Regions from separate parts of the Homo sapiens genome. Here region 1 is linked to region 2. The links come from fine-mapping of genetic effects on gene expression. A gene starts in region 2. The other region holds a variant in brackets. All regions are shown on one strand. Distances are from middle to middle. Region 1 overlaps IREB2 (iron responsive element binding protein 2). Region 2 holds the start of IREB2 (iron responsive element binding protein 2).

What was found.
Region 1: its variant is fine-mapped to the expression of IREB2 in blood mononuclear cells (TOPMed, PIP above 0.99). The same link has a PIP of 0.9 or more in T cells.

What each region holds. Positions count from the first base shown.
Region 1 is chr15:78,495,233-78,503,726 of GRCh38, reverse strand. It overlaps IREB2 (iron responsive element binding protein 2), which reads right to left. Exons shown (of 22, transcript NM_004136.4): 21 at 6,416-6,601; 22 at 2,274-5,694. The coding sequence ends at 5,584. Among named protein-coding and RNA genes, the nearest start is that of HYKK, 8.1 kb to the left of the region's middle. The variant A/G (reference allele first, on the strand shown) is at 3,542.
Region 2 is chr15:78,434,539-78,443,032 of GRCh38, reverse strand. IREB2 (iron responsive element binding protein 2) reads right to left here and starts at 4,817. Exons shown (of 22, transcript NM_004136.4): 1 at 4,677-4,817; 2 at 3,152-3,238. The coding sequence starts at 4,695. RefSeq lists a silencer at 4,363-4,602 and enhancers at 5,073-5,132, 5,203-5,282.

The DNA of each region.
Region 1 (8,494 bases), 61 kb before region 2:
TTAAATATTTACATTTACATTGGAGGAAAAGTGTTACAAAGCTGGGGGAAAGGAGGAAATTAAATAAGTAACAGAAAGGAAATACTTCAGAGCAGAAACCAATAAAACAAAACAAACCGGGCACGGTGGCTCATGCCTGTAATCCCAGCACTTTGGGAGGCCCCGGTGGGCGGATCACAAGGTCAGGAGTTTGAGACCACCCTGGCCAACATGGTGAAACCCCGTCTCTACTAAAAATACAAAACAAATTAGCCAGACATGGTGGCGCATGCCTGTAATCACAGCTACTCGGGAGGCTGAGGCAGGAGAATCACTTGAACCCGGGAGGTGGAGGTTGCAGTGAGCCGAGATCGCACCATTGCACTCCAGCCTGGGCAACAGAGCCAGATTCCGTCTCAAAAAGAAAAAAAAAAAAAAAAAATCCAAAACCAAAACCAAACAAAAAACCAGAAAACAATGGAGAAAATAATGTAAAAAATTGGCTCTTTAAAAAATTAACTCAATTTCTAACCCTTTAGAAAGACTAATCAAGGAAAAAAAAGAAAACACAAATTACCAATATTGGTAATAAAAAGGGACCCTGCCACAGATCATATAGATATTGATAGGGAAATACTGAAAAAAATGCTTAAAATTCAGTACTAACACCACATAAACACAAAATTCACAGTGACAACACACTTATTTAAAAGACAGGGTCTTGCTGTCACCCAGGCTGGAGTGCAGTGGCATAAATCATAGCTCACTGCAGCCTCAACCTAGGCTCAAGCGATCCTCCTGCCTCAGCCTCCCAACTAGCTGGGACTACAGGTGCACAGCACCACACCAAACTAATTATTATTATTTTTTAAGAAACAGGGTCTTGCTATGTTGCCCAGGGTGGGGTCAAATTCCTGACTTCAAGTGATCCTCCTGCCTCCTGCCTTGGCCTCCCAAAGTGTGAACCACCTCGCCTGGCCACACTTGTCATTATACCAGCAAATTTTGTGAGAATTACATATGCATCTGCTTTTGCAATAAATGCATTTTTCAAGTACAGAACACAGGTTTACAACATACATCAAATCAAAATGGTAAATCTGAAGCTACTTTGTAATTAAAAAGCAAAATTAGCATCAAGTGAAAACTGTAAACCAACTAAATGCTACACTGATGAAGCTCTTAAGTTTCCTCCTAGACTGCATATTCAAACTATCAGCTTGTGCCTATGTTGGTATTAGCCTTTAGGTAATGCAAACTTCTTAGAATACTAAATTGGAATCCTTAGAAAATTCTAATAAAGTGCCAATTATGGTTTATGATTACTGAATTCTAAGAAATAAACCTTACTCTTTTAGGTTGCTAATAATAGTGGGAAGAAAGGATACGTCTTTTTGGATGAGTGTCCCCGCCCAAATCTCATGTCGGATTGTAATCCCCAGTGTTGGAGGTGGGGCCTGGTGGGAGGTGACTGGATTATGGGGGTGGTTTCTTATGGTTTAACACCATCCCCCTTGGTGTTGTCCCAATAGTGAGTTCTCCTGAGATCTAGTTGTTTAAAAGTGTGTGGCACCTCCCCTGTCTCTCTGTTCCTCCTGCTCTGGCCACGTGAAGTGCTTGCTCCCACTTAATCTTCCACCTTGATTGTAAGTTTCCTGAGGCCTCCCCAGAAGCCAAGCAGATGCCAGCATCATGCTTCCTGTACATCCTGCAGAACCATGAGCCAATTAAACCTCTTTTTAAAATAAATTACCCAGTCTCAGGCATTTCTTTATACCAATGCGAGAACAAACAAATACACCTGGGATCCTGGCTCCCAGCTTCCGATGACTTGTTTCATGAACACTAATGAACGGGCAGCACAGGGAGCAGGCATCCTCAGCTGCTCCTGGATGGCATCTGGATGGCGGGACATTTCATTTTTGCTTTTTTTTTTTTTTTTTGAGACAGAGTCTCACTGTTTCGCCCAGGCTGGAGTGCAGTGGCGTGAACTCTGCTCACTGCAAACTCTGCCTCCCGGGTTTATGCTATCCTCCTGCCTCAGCCTCCCAAGTAGCTGGGACTACAGGCGCCCGCCATCATGTCCGGCTAATTTTTTTGTATTTTTAGTACAGACAGGGTTTCACTGTGTTGGCCAGGATGGTCTCGATCTCCTGACCTCGTGATCCGCCTGCCTCGGCCTCCCAAAGTGCTGGGATTACAGGCGTGAGCCACCGTGCCCAGCCGGATGGCAGCATATTTTTTACATCATGTTGTTTTATTTTCAACTACTACAAAACAGAACAAGAATCAAATGTGATAATACAATTTTCTTTATTAAAAATAATTTACAGCATCAGTAACATATACACAATTGTCATCAACTGAACTTTGCCTCCAATATATTTCTATACAATACTTAACATTATTGAACTTAAAACTGTTACACTGTTTTGTTGGCTTTAAATAATAGACAATGATTTTTGTCTATTACTTAGTGATAGACAAAGTGATTACTTTGTTACTTAAGTGAGATATATGGTTTCATAGCCACATATTATGTGTAAAATTGATAGAAACGTCAGCAATATCACTCTTTAGGGGAAAAAACACTGAAAAGCCAAAGTCCACCCTCTTCTTCTCTCTTATTACTCCAACCAAACTAAGATAGGATAAACATCCAGTATCTTAGTATCTCCTCCTAAACCTAAAGACAAAAGAAAGGTGTCTTCTATTCAACCACAGAAAAATGTCAAATAATTTCTTCTCATCCTCTCACTCATCACTGTGAAAGCAAATGCACACGACCTTGTTACCATATATGCAGGCAACTATGATTCTGATTTAGGTCCTAGCTTTACTTTCCTTTAGTACAACTGTTGTTTGATTACCAACGAAAAACTAAGCAATCTGGCTAGAGGGATACTAGTACCTTCTTTCAAATGTCAGCATGGAGATAAAACAAAATAGTGATAACTGTCATCTTAGAAACTTTTTAGATATAATAATGGCAATTCAGTGGCTGGATGACATTTCCATTGATTCCATTGTATAAGAGTAGCAAAACCCCAAAATATGAAAATGGCAATGATATGTAGCATAATGTTTTCAAAGTATAAAAAAAACCCTGCTGTTGGTAGTGACCTTTGAAATTGTACTTTAAGCTTACAACACTGATTTGCTTTTCTTGTGTGTCTGACATTACACTTCCTTTTTTTTTTTTTTTTTTTGGTAACACAAAATTACCCAAGGTATAGTAAACAAAGAAGACACAGACAATAAAAACTAACAGATGCCACATTTTGCAAACATAGCATTTGGCTAGAGGCAGAATTATAAGGTATACATATTAAAACATACATCCAAGACTCTCCTCCTCAATTTGAAACCATGTTTATCAAGTTTTTACTTCATTGTATATAAGCCAAAAAATTAAGAGAACCTTGATTTGTTCCTGAAATACAAGATTTGCTTGTATTATTACTGGACCAGGTAGACTGGATATGTGAATGTTTAATTCATAGTTAGCTAGCTTTACCATCATCTCCTGAATCAGCTGCTGAGGATGCCTGTGCCTCTGCCC[A/G]TAACTATATATAGAGTATGCTTTCAAAACAATATAGGCCGGGTGTGGTGGCTCACACCTGTAATCCCAGCACTTGTGGAGGCCAAGGCGGGCGGATCACGAGGTCAAGAGATTCAGATCATCTGGCCAACATGGTGAAACCCCATCTCTACTAAAACTACAAAAATTAGCTGGGCGTGGTGGTGCATGCTTGTAGTCCCAGCTACTCAGGAGGCTGAGGCAGGAGAATCCCCTGAACCCGGGAGGCGGAGGTTGCAGTGAGCCAAGATCGCGCCATTGCACTCCAGCCCAGCCACAGGGCAAGACTCCGTCTCAAAAAACAAAACAAAACAAAATAGATTTGTTTCCCCCTGCACAATCTGGAATTACCATTTCTTCAGAGCACATACAGGCATTTCATCTTTCAACCTGTAATTTCTCCTAACTCATGTTTTCATGTAAATTAAAAACACATGCACTAACAAATAAATATACAGCATATATCAAGAACACAATATAATTTGAAAGTGTCGAAGAAAATACTTATACAAAATTTAAATAAAGAAATCATTTTGTCGAACTCTAGTCCATCTTATTGTCTAAACACATATTTGCAAAATATTTTCAAAAGATTGTATGATTATGTGCAAAGTTCTTAGTGGTCTTCATCCACTGGTTTGGTAGTTTCAGCATTTTGCTTACAACAAGTAATTCTTTATGCAATGTGAACTAATTCTGAATTGCAGTAACTAACTAGGTCATAGAAAGATATCTATGTGAAAAAAAATCACTACAATTAACCTTTAGCCTGCTAGACTTAGTTTCTTAATTAAAAAAACAGTATAGAACCTTCTATAATTAATTTTCCAACCTTTTTAAAAAAAATTACCAAACATCTTGTTGACAGAACATTTGATGTGATGGGCAGACATGCATATTGAGGATATATAGTACTCAGCAACAACTTAAGTGTTTTATCCTTACGGTCAGCTTTGGTTAAAACAGTAACATAACAAAATTAATAGAATCATGCATCGCAGGTGATAAATGATTCAAAATGACAGGAAATCAATTTAATTAAGAAATAGCAACACTTAAAAAATGCATAGGGTTGAGCACCCGTATTATTGAGGGTGGATAATTTAAATGTATAGAAGAAATCAGTTCAGAGTTTAATGATTGAATAACATTCTCTTTAGCAACTATGAGTGTGAAATTTTGGTTAATGATACCGAAAATATTAGGTTATAGGAAGTTACAGTATTACATAAGGTGAGCAAAATAATCTAATCCAATTAATATAACGCCATCTGGGGGCTTGCCAGACAGTCACAGTGGCAAACTGCTGAAATATGAAAGGCTGCATCATATGTGATACATATTCCCACTGCTAATACATGGTGCCACACAATCAGTTGTATCCTGCCATGGTCCATCTTCATATGTGGAGGGAACCTTGGCTGGATTGGACAGAATGATTGTGACCTGGGGCAGGTTCCATCCCTTGCAGTTAGACTAAGGATAAACCTGGTTATATGACAAACTAAGAATGCCAAATGTGTCCAGCTCAATTCTGAAGAGGAATTAATATACTTAAAAGGTCCATTTATAAATGAGATTCCAATGGCCACAATTTTAGAGTCTAATCTGGCTTCTTATATTTCAATCTGCTACTCTTAAACCAACAAACAGTAGTACACAGTTTTATTGGTGCAAAACTAAACAAATCCAGGAAGGTTATTCATATAAGAATCTTCAACACAAATTCTGCCTTTATTTACAAAATGGTCTGATAAAATATCGCCCCCCCCCCATACTTACAGGTCTCTTCCACAACACACTTCACACGTTGATTTTAGCAATATTAATAGCACCATTCGTATATTATTTAAAATCAAGAAGATTTCATTTCAGTTACTATGTTGATTCATCATCATTTACATCCATGGATGAGATAAGTGAGTATACTGGGACTATCTGCTGCTCCATGGTAAGGATTCCTGGGTCCAGCACAAAAGGCTTTGCAGTTACCAGTTATGAAAGGTATCTATGGTAAGTAGATACTATGAGAATTTTCGTGCCACAAAGTTTAATAATCCTCCATGTTTGTATAATGTTATTTCCACATCATCTTCAAACGAAGCAATCACGCTGAATACTTTTCCAGTGCTTGTCTTGAAAGGAGCAAAAACATCTCATGTGAGCAAGTAAATCTTCCAGGTGCTACTTGATGGTTAAGACCATTTGTCTTCATATTTAATGACTATACTTGCCACAGATTCTGTCTGATTTATCTTGGTTCTAATTTCTTATATTCTGATTGCCTGAAACTTTGCTGCTGCTTGAAAAACACCTGAGATACCTGACCATGGGCTTCATAGTTAAGTAGAAAAATAGCTGCATTTAGATTTTGACTTATTAATTGGGGAAGTTATACTCACTACTCACATTCATTTTACACCAAATATTGATTGCATGTAATCAGTAACTCCTACTCTTTCCCCTTTTTTCTTAGTTGTAAAGTCTGTTTTGCTCTAACTTTGAACGCTCAACTTTGCTCTCTTTGGAGTGGTATGTATGCCTCGGTTAAAATTAGATCAGGACAGCAAAAAAATGACCACCATGAAAAGAAAGCTGACACTTGTTAAGTGGAAGTCAAGATTCCCCTTCATGTGTTCTTTTTTTCTGGTATAAGCACCCAGTTCTTTCCACTTTTCCTCAGAGAACATGAACTATTAACATAGCTAGATCTAAGTATGGAAGAGAGAGTCATCTTAAATGGCAACTTAACATTCATTAAGTGACATTAGTATATAATTTACAGCAATTGATTCTTATTCAATAATTCATAAACATTTGAGTGCATAATCATATATTTGAAAAATTTAGAGATACCTGTATATTCAATGTAATTCCAGGAGACAGTTCTTCAGGAAATGTTAAAGAAAATGTTTCTCTACCGGAGAGGCCCAAGGAATCTGCATTTTCTCCTGGAAGGAACTGAAGTGGAGCTATGCCAATTCCAATCAAATGATCTTTGTGTATTTTTTCATAACTTTCGGCCAAAACAGCTTTCACACCCTGTAATAAATGTGCATTTTATTCCCTCTAATCACTTCTGAAAGTTATTTATTGAGCATTTAAAGGGGGCAAAAATCTACTTTGGCCTTTCTCTAAATACTTTTAGTCTAATATCTCATACTGAATCAATATTTTATCAAAGTATTTACAGAACCTTCTTACAGATTATTTTTCTGAATTTTTATGGAGCTCTCTAAATTATTCGGATCCCTTTCTGCTGCTCTAGGGTTAAGTACTGCCGCTGCCTACCACATCATAAGAGCTCTATAAATGGGCCGGCTCCCTTGACCCCAAAGTAGGGCTCAGAAGGATTTCTATTTAAACATGCCAGATCTAACATATGTTTTCAACACTCTTGAAATGCCACTAAAATAAAGGAATAAAGAAGGTATATAGGGCCAGGCGCAGTGGCTTATATGCTTATAATCCCAGTACTTTGGAGGCTGAGGCAGAAGGATTATTTGAGGCCGGGAGTTTGAGACCAGCCTGGGCAATATAGTGAGACCCTGTCTCTACAAAACATAAAAATAAAAAATACAATAAAAAGTAACAAGAATAGGCTGGATGCAGTGGCTCACACCTGTAATGCCAGCACTATGGGAGGCCGAGGTGGGCAGATCACTTGAAGCCAGGAGTTTGAGACCAGCCTGGCCAACATGGTGAAACTCCATCTCTATCTAAAAACAGAAAAATTAGCTGGACATGGTGGTGCACACCTGTAATCTCAGCTACTATGGAGGCTGAGGCAGGAGAGTCACTTGAGGTTGTAAGTGGAGGTTGCAGGGAGCTGAGATCATGCCACTGCATTCCAGCCTGGACGACAGAGTGAGACCCTGTCTCCAAAAAATACAAATAAGTAACAACAATAATGAAGAGGGTATAAGCCCACAGCAACAAAGGGAATAGGATGAGAGAATTCTATGAATATTTAGAAAACAGAGATAGGTAAGTGATTTAGAAGACAATGCTGAAACCGCAGAATGATAAAATGAAATTAGAGAGTGATACCAGTAAGGTCTGAGTTAATGTGCAACACAAGACCCAGGAAAAGGATTGAGATTCAGAGGCATGAGGTTCTCAGAATACTCGTGGACACAGGTTACAAGGCCATACAAAGCAGTAAGATCCAGCTCAATCCCCACTCCACAAGAGTAGAGGTTTATTCTCTGGAAAAAATGAGCCAAAGGCTCTAGACTTGTGTTTTTCAACTTTTTTCTCCACTGTCTACCTAAGGAGTCTTTTAAGACTTTTTTCCCCCAAATTGTGTCTTCCTGTTCACCTCCCTTCTCTCCAAAATTTTAGTACCACAAAGATGCTGTGTATCTTTTAATGTACTCTTATCTGTACTTTATGTGCAAAAAGTAGAATTTTTTTTACCACCTGAGGACCAATTTTTGTTCTTTTTTACTCATTTTTTACAAATTTTTACTCATTTTTTGTTATAGCAGAAATAAGGAAGAGAATACATTCTCTAAACTGACAAACACTGGGCACAGGGGCTTGAGAATACCAGATTGAAAACAGGGGACTAAGTAGATGTCTACATACTGAACGAGTCTCTTTCCTTCAAGAAACTGAATGGCCTCAGAGAAAATACAGATAATGACATATAGAATCGCTTAATGAAAAAGGTAGCTTATCACCCAGTCACCTATAGTAAGGCCCAGTAACTGACACAACCCAGCCCCCATCCATGGCTTGTAATCAGTTTTTTAATGTCTAACAAATGGAGGGCCAAGCATCACCTGCCATATAAGGAAAGCTTCCAACATCAAAAACAAACACTAAAACAATTTCCAGGATAAAAATAACCTATACCTATCATTAATACTCATAATAATACTTATAATTAGTATCTTAGAAGGATGAGATTTTGTTTTATTCCCACAGCCC
Region 2 (8,494 bases):
ATATCCCCCATGAGTAAGAGAAGACCTTGATTATTCCATCTTTCAGCCTTCTTGAAGCTAAGAGTGGCCACTGATACTTTGGCCAAAGAGGCAAAAGCCCCTGGAGAGGGCTTTTATCATGGTTATAAAAACTGGTAATTCTGGAATTATGTTAAGTACACATGTACTCTGTACAGTTATGTACAAATTCCCATGACAGCTTATTTCCCAGGGAAAATTTAACTTGGACATAATGCCTGGAGGTGCAACCAAAAGAATAAAAACAGAACGGGAAGAAAGGACGAGCCTAGATCCTTGCGGAGATTGGTGCTGCACAGCCCCAGTCTGCCAATCTCCACACTTCGTTATGTTAGAAAAATAAACTCGTATTTCTTAAAGTCATTGGACAGCAAGTTTTCAGTTCTTTGCAGCTGCAGGCATCCCTGACATAGTCAGCATGGAGCTTAGAACAGTGTTTCTCAACTATCTTTACTCTGTAACATTTATGAGGGATAGAATCCATTCCCTTCATTAATCGTTACTCATTACAACAGTCATTCTCAACCTAGCAGGCATCAAAATGTGGAATGGAGGTGGAGAAGACTGGCTCTGTACCTTGGTGACTACCAAAGCAATGTCTTCTTGTAAGCATATGTCTAGGAGGCAATTCAATCTGATCCTTTCAAAAATGCAATAAGGATTTTTTGTTCTAAGGTTAAACAACCAAATACTTCCTACCTAACTTGTTCCTTTCTTTCAAAGTCAATTCTTCAAATTTTATTCCTTATTAGGAAATTACTTAAGTAATTATTACTTAATAACCTCTCATAATAAGCACTCTATTAAAAAAGCAGGAGGGGCTGGGCGCAGTGGCTCACTCCTGTAATCCCAGCACTTTGAGAGGCTGAGGTGGGTGGATCACTTGAGGTCAGGAGTTTGAGATCACCCTGACCAACATGGTAAAACCACCATCTCTACAACTAGCTGGGTGTGGTGATGCACGCCTATAGTACCAGCTACTTGGGAGGTTAAGGCACGAGAATCGCTTGAACTCAGGAGGCAGAGGCAGCAGTGAGCTGAGATCACACCATTGCACTCCAGCCTGGGTGACAGAGCAAGATCCTGTCTCAAAAAAATAAGTAAAATAAAATAAAATAAAATAAAATAAAAACCAGGGTACTGACCCCACATAAAAACCAACTTTCTGTTTTGAAAGTATTTATAGTCACAGGTATTCTATTATTACATTTATCATGGTTATAAAAACTGGTAATTCTGGAATTATGTTAAGTACACATGTACTCTGTACAGTTATGTACAAATTCCCATGACAACTTATTTCCCAGGGAAAATTTAACTTTCAGATTATCAATCATTCCCTTTCAATGCATTTTACAGTTGTTTTTGACAGTTTCCTACTGATTCCTTAAATTTGAGAAATTTAGGTCATCTTCCTTCAAGTAAGCACATTTCTACAGATTATACACAGAAAGTATTTATACTCAATTTTCAAAACATCTTATGTGCTCCTTTAATTTATTAAACTATGAAATTTGGGTTAAAAGACTTCCAAGCCAGTATCACTAGATTATTTTGGAGAAGTAAATGGGAAATAAAATGACTATTCTTGTAAACGATCAATCTAGCTGTTTCTTTTCAAAATTAATGCAAACTCACCATCAGTGAAGGGATAAAATTAATGTGAAAGACATACATTAAGAAAATGACCAACTTCCTTTAACAAACGTATCAACACAAATCACTGCAGCTAAACATGCAAGGTAAAGGATATTGCTCTCATTTTGGCAAACTGTTTATTTTTAAATGACAGCCTAATTCTAAAATGGGGATTCTTTAAGATACTCCAAAATAGCTGTATTTCACAATACACAAAAAATATTGCACATAGCAGTCAAGAATATTTAAATTCCTCAAAATCTACAGAAAAATCACAAGAACAATCGTCTTAATTAAATAATGCAAGAAAAAACAAGATTAAAGCTCCTTCCAAAACTGACTGCAACAGATGTGGCATTCAATTTATCTTTTCATGTCATTGTCATGGAAAAGTTCACAAAGAATAATGAGTCTTCTAAAGAGGTCTCTCTATTGGCCCAATTGAGAAAGTTACTCAACTGTTAGTAAAGTCAAAACTTCCATTCAATGCCCTATAGGTCGCCCACATTCACTCTTCTGAGACCACAGAGAAAGGTTTGACCCTGATAAGGTCAATGAGAATGTCTGCCAAAACTGCAGGTGTGTAGGTTGGGGCAAACCATGCCCAATACTTCAGAAAAATTCAAATCAATGGGTCCTGTTGGTGATTCCTATTCAACAGATGGCAAAAAGAATAGATGTGGGCACTGTTCATTTGACAAAGTAAAACAGGCCAGGCATAGTGGCTCAGGCCTGCAATCCCAATACTTTGTGAGGCTGAGGCAGATGCATCACTTAAGGTCAGGAGTCTGAGACTAGTCTGGGCAACACAGCAAGACCCCAACTCTACAAAAAATATAAAAATATGTTTTTATATAAATGTGTTGGCATACACCTGTAGGCCTTGTTACTTGGGAGGCAGAGGCAGGACTGCTTTAGCCCAGGAGTTCAAGGCTGTATGAGCTATGATCACAACACTGTGCTCTAGCCTGGGCAACAGAGCAAGACTCTGTCTCAAAAAAAAAAAGAAAAGAAAAGAGAAAATAAAATATACATTTAATTGGTGTAGAATTATCATCAGTCAGTCAGGTTCTTCTAAAAATCACATTAGGCCAGGCGCAGTAGCTTACATGTGTAATCCCAAAACTTGGGGAGGCAGAGGTGGGAGGATTATTTGGGCCCAGGGGTTCAAAACTAGCCTGGGTAACATAGCAAGACCCCTGTCTTCACAAAAACAAGAAAAAAAAAAGTTTGAAAACTGCATTATTGGTTTCTTTGAGGGGAAAAACTAGTGCTTAATTAACTTAGATTTTTAAATGAGAAGTTAAGGTGTGGGCCTACATCTTCCCTGAACAGAAGTTGTCCCAGGAGGAGTTTTTAAAATGGTATAGGTATGTGTAGGTGTACCTGTTACAATACGGTGGAAATACATTTAAAATTTCTTCAGCTCAGCTTGACAAATGCATTTTCATTATTAGAGACTAAACAAACCCAAGAAAATGTAAAGCAACATTACCATACTTGGTGCCAAGTTTAGATACATCGAAGAACTTCTTATGTGAACTGTCATTTAATGTTTCAATAAGGTACTCAAAGGCGTATCCTGAAAAAAAAATTGTATTTTCATTAAATGCAGCAACAAAATATTTTATTCAGCTGAAAATACCTGGAAACTAGCTTTATCCAATAGAATTTTCTGCAATGGTAAAAATATTCTATGTTTGAGCTGTCCAGTAAAGTAGCCATTAGCAACGTGTGGCTATTGAGCACCTGAAATGTGGCTATCGTGCCTGAGGAACTGAATTTTTAATTTATTTAATTTTGATTAATTTAAAGTCACACAGGGCTAGTATCCACCACACTGGAAAGCATAGTTCTAAACCATAATTTGTCAAGTAAAAACTAGTAAGATAATTCACTCCTGAAATGTGATAAGAATACCTGGAAAGGGACAATAAGAATGATTTAAATAATCCACGGGGACGTTTTGGAAAGACATGTCTTGAAAACTGCAGAGACAGGAATTTGTGAATTCCACAATTAACATTAGAGGGACTGATTAAAAAAAAAAACTAAAAGACGGATTTTTACAGAGCATTCAATAAACCAAAACAAAAAAACTTCTCAGTTAAGTCCTTACCAGGGCTTAGTACTGAAAATAAAAGTAACAGAATCTCTAGGAAATTAGCATATTCTACCCGAAAGAGACAAGTCTTCTGGTTTTGCACGAACTGAAGCTGAACTACTAAGTCAAAGATCCAGAGGTCTCATTTAAACGTGCCTCAGCTCCCAACATTCTAGGGGGCAGTGGCGGGGAGGCAGCCCTGAGGTTGAAAAGAACCTTCAGATCTTTTGTGCAGACTCATAGCGGTGGGTGGCCAGGACCCTCAACATTGTTAAGGCTTTCATCCAAAAGGAGAAAACATAAGCACAGCCCATTTTCAGAATGAATAGTATTTTTTTCTCTTTTTTTTTTTTTGTAGAGGGAGGTGGACGGGGGAGGAGACAGCGGTGCAATAAATGGTCGGAGAACTGACTGACCAATGTTCAACCTTGACTGCCCCTCATTCGGCTTCCAGAGGCACAGAGAGACTGAGGGGCCTTAGGCTGGACCGTGGAATCAACATCTAGCTGCGTGAGACCCGAACACGGAGACGCAGGCCCCCGCCTTCATCGCTCGCCAATGGGGGGCGGGCAGGAGAAGACGGTGGGCCTCTCCCTGCCCCTGGTGTTGCTGACGGGGGCCAGGAAGCCGCTGGCAGCAGGCAGCGGCCACCGGAGAGAGAGGGGTGCGGGTCAAGGCCAGCGGTGGGGTGGCCCGCCCTGCGGGTGTCGCGCAGGAGGGTGGGGATCGGGAGCCCCAGCTTCCGCGGCCTAGGCTCAAAGGGCGGCCCAGCAGGCAGGCCCCGAGGGGAGCACAACCCGAGCCCCGAGGGCCTGGGCGCCTGCCGAGCGACTCCAGGCGAGAAAAGCAAGGAATTCGGCGCCTAGGCAGCGCGCGTTTCCAACTGCCAGACCCAGCTCGGAGGCCCGAAACTGACCTGCTTTTGGGGCGTCCATCGCCGGAGACCATATTATCCCTCCGGGGAGGGGGCCAGCGGGGGAAGAAGGGGGAGGCCGGGCAGGGAAGACGGGGAGGAAGACAGGCGGACTGGCAAGGGAGGAAAGAAGGAAGCAGGCTCGCGCAAATATCGCGAGAGCAGCAGAGCCAGCCCCGGGTCTGCGCTCGCGGGATTTGTCGCCTAACTCCCGCGAGATCGTCGGACAGGAAAACAAAGAAAGGGAAGGGGCGGAGCTAACCAGAAAGCGATTTCTCGCGCCGTCGCCGCTGTTCTCGCGAGCGGGGGCGGAGCGCTGGGGAGGCTCCAGTGGGGGCGTTGGCGTGGCTAGTTTGGCCTTCGCAGCGATCCGTTACTTAGTTGCGGCCTTAAGTTTTCTATTGGGGTCATGAATTCGAGCGGTGTTTGCGTTCCCGCAAGGTGTCTGTTGGAGTCAGGGTCGGAATCGGAACTGCTAGGAGAAAGAGCTCAAGGAGAACCGCTTTCCCCTAACTATAAAGCCTTGCATTAACTTGTCAGACGTGGGCGGCCCACACGCGTGTTTTCAAGTGGGGGCGGCCATACTGATCGGGCGCGTGGGAGGCGCTCAACTGTTGAATGAATGAATTTTTTCTTACCCTCCGGTAGCTTCCGTGATTGCCGACTTCTTCCCAGTGGCAGTTAACACATGCTTAAGCCTCTCCATCCTTCCGCCTCAGCTCCTCCGGTCCCTGTGTTCTCCACCTACCCAGCATTATCTCCTGTCGCAGCAACTTACCAGAAAGAGTCGCTCATACTCGGCTCTCCCCCACCCACTTCTTATCCTCTTCCAGTCTGGCTTCCACTCCCAGAAATGCCTTTAGCCAAGGCCAGCTATAACTCCACTTTCTAATCTCACATATCTCAATCTTGACTGGTTCTCTCCCATTGTTGAAAAATACTCTTCCATCAGCTTCTGTGACTTCAGACTCTACTTTTGTTTCTTCTCCTAAGGGTGCTTGATCTCAGGCTCCTCTGCAGACCTCTTCCTCCGCCCAGCTTTTAAATGTACTGGGCACTTGATGGGCACAGTAGCTCATGCCTGTAATTCCAGCACTTTAGGAGGCCAAAGTGGGAGGATGGCTTGAGCTGAAAAGTTCAAGACCAAACACAGCAACGTAGTGAGACCCTATCTCTACAAAAAAAATTTAAAAATTAGCTGAGTGTGGTGGCATGCACCTGTAGTCTCAGCTACTCAGGAGGCTGAGGTGGGAGGATCACTTGGGCCCAGGAGATTGAGGCTGTGGTGAGCCATGATTGCACCACTGCACTCCAGCCTGAGCAACACAGCAAGACCCTGTCTCAAAAAAAAATATATTGGACATTAAATGTGTCCCAGGGCTCTGGCCTTGTACCTCCTCCCTCTGTCCATTTTCCCTGGCCCATCTCACACTTCCTTTGACTTCAGTTATTAGTTAATATGTTGATGCTTCCCAGTCTGCCTGTGACCTGAGCCTATCTCCTAAACCCGGAGGTGTATATCCTAGTACCCATGGGATGCCTCCACATCCCAAGGCACCTCAAACTAAAAATCTCCAAAACTGAACTCGTCATTTCCCTCCTTAAACCTACTATTCCTTTTGTATTGCCTGTATTAGCGAATGGCGCCACCATCCACCTGGTTGCCCAAGCCAGAAATCAACACATTATACCTGACTCCTTCATCCACTCCCTTTAATCATTGATCCAAGCCCTGTCAACCCAAACTCCAATATATTTCCTTTATTCACCTTGCTATATTTTGTAACATCTCCTTTACAATCCCAGCATGAAATTCATAGGTAATATAATCTACATACACGATAAATAATCTACTTAATGACCTAACTGTAATATAAAGGAGAAAAATAGGAAAGTAATTTATTAGAAAATAATATGTATTATAATACGTAGCTGCACAGGCATGTCTATATTAGATGACAAAATTGAGTAGTCAGATGCTTGTATCTATTTATAACGAATGAGTTTGGTTTTACAGGACATATAATATTCGACTGGGCCAGGCACAGTTGGTAGCTCAAGCTTGTAATCCCAGCACTTTGGGAAGCCAAAGCTGCAGGATCGCTTGATGCTAGGAGTTTGAGACTAGCCTGGGCAACATGGTGAGACCCTGTCTCTACAAAAACTTAAAGAGTTAGCCAGACATAGTGGTGCATGCCTGTAGTACCAGCTACCGTGAGACAGAGGCAGGAGGATCACTTGAGCCCAGAAATTCAAGATTACAGTGAGCTATGATTGTGCCACTGCACTCCAACCTGGGAGACAGAATGAAACCCTGTCTCAAAAAAAGATAAGGCCGGGGCGGTGGCTCACGCCTGTAATCCCAGCACTTCGGGAGGCTGAGGCGGGCGGATCACGAGGTCAGGAGATGGGAGATCATCCTGGCTAACACGGTGAAACCCCGTCTCTACTAAAAGTACAAAAAATTACCCGGGCGTGGTGGCAGGCGCCTGTAGCCCCAGCTACTCGGGAGGCTGAGGCAGGAGAATGGCGTGAACCCAGGAGGCGGAGCTTGCAGTGAGCCGAGATTTCACCACTGAACTCCAGCCTGGGCAACAATGCAAGACTTCGTCTCAAAAAAAAAAAGATAATATTCAGCTGAATATGGTCAACACTTTTTATGTCTGACATTGCAAAATAAGGATTCAATATATACATACATATCATGCATAAATATATATTATGAATGCATATATGGTAAATGCACATATGTATAAAATGTACATATATATCATGAATGGCCTCTAAAGACTAATGAAAATATGTTAGTGACTTAAATATTGGAAGTGTTGTCACTATTGTGATTTTCTGAAATGGTGAATAACTCTTGATAAAGTTCAAAACAAAAAAAAAAAACCTTTGCTTTTTTTATGCAATAGTTGTATTCCTAGAAAATTCCGTATATATTAAAACCATACACAAATTACTTTTGTTTTTACTTGTATATGGGGTTAAACTCTAGGCTCAGATAATTATAAACAAATTTGTTGTTACTGTTTTTATGTTTGTGTGTATGTTTAATGTACTTGAATATCTGACAGTATGGGTCTTGTTTGATTCTTTTTTTTTTTGAGACGGAGTCTTGCTCTGTAGCCCAGGCTGGAGTGCAGTGACATGATCTTGGCTCACTGCAACCTCCGCCCCTCGGGTCCCGGTTCAAGCAATTCTCCTGCCTCAGCCTCCTGAGTAGCTGGGAATACAGGCACGTGCCATCATGCCCAGCTAAGTTTTATATTTTTAGTAGAGACAGGGTTTTACCATGTTGGCCAGGCTGGTCTTGAACTCCTGACCTCGTGATCCGCCCATCTCAGCTTCCCAAAGTGCTGGGATTACAGGCGTGAGCCACCGGGCCTGGCCCTTGTTTGATTCTTTGTTGTGTAATTCTATAGTGTGGAATGCAGGCAATCTAACATTCATTGAATCCCAAAAGTGCCCCATGATGGTGACAAACAAAAACACCCATTTTCTCAGTGTCCCGCTTCCACTGAGAAGCACTAACTTAGAACAATCATGATATGCTCCCGTGTGGCTGGACTCATTACTTTTTTTTTTTTTTTAACAGTTTTATTTACTTTTTGAAAATTTTATTTATTTTAAGACAGAGGTCTGTTTATTTGGCCTGGACCGATCTCAAACTCCTGAGTTCAAGGGATTCTCCCACCTCAGCCTCCCAAGTAGCTGGGACTACAGGCATATGCCATCTCAGTCAGCTTTAACAGTTTTATTGAGATTTAGTTTAAATATCATAAAATTTACCTATTGTTAAACATTCTTATTTTGTG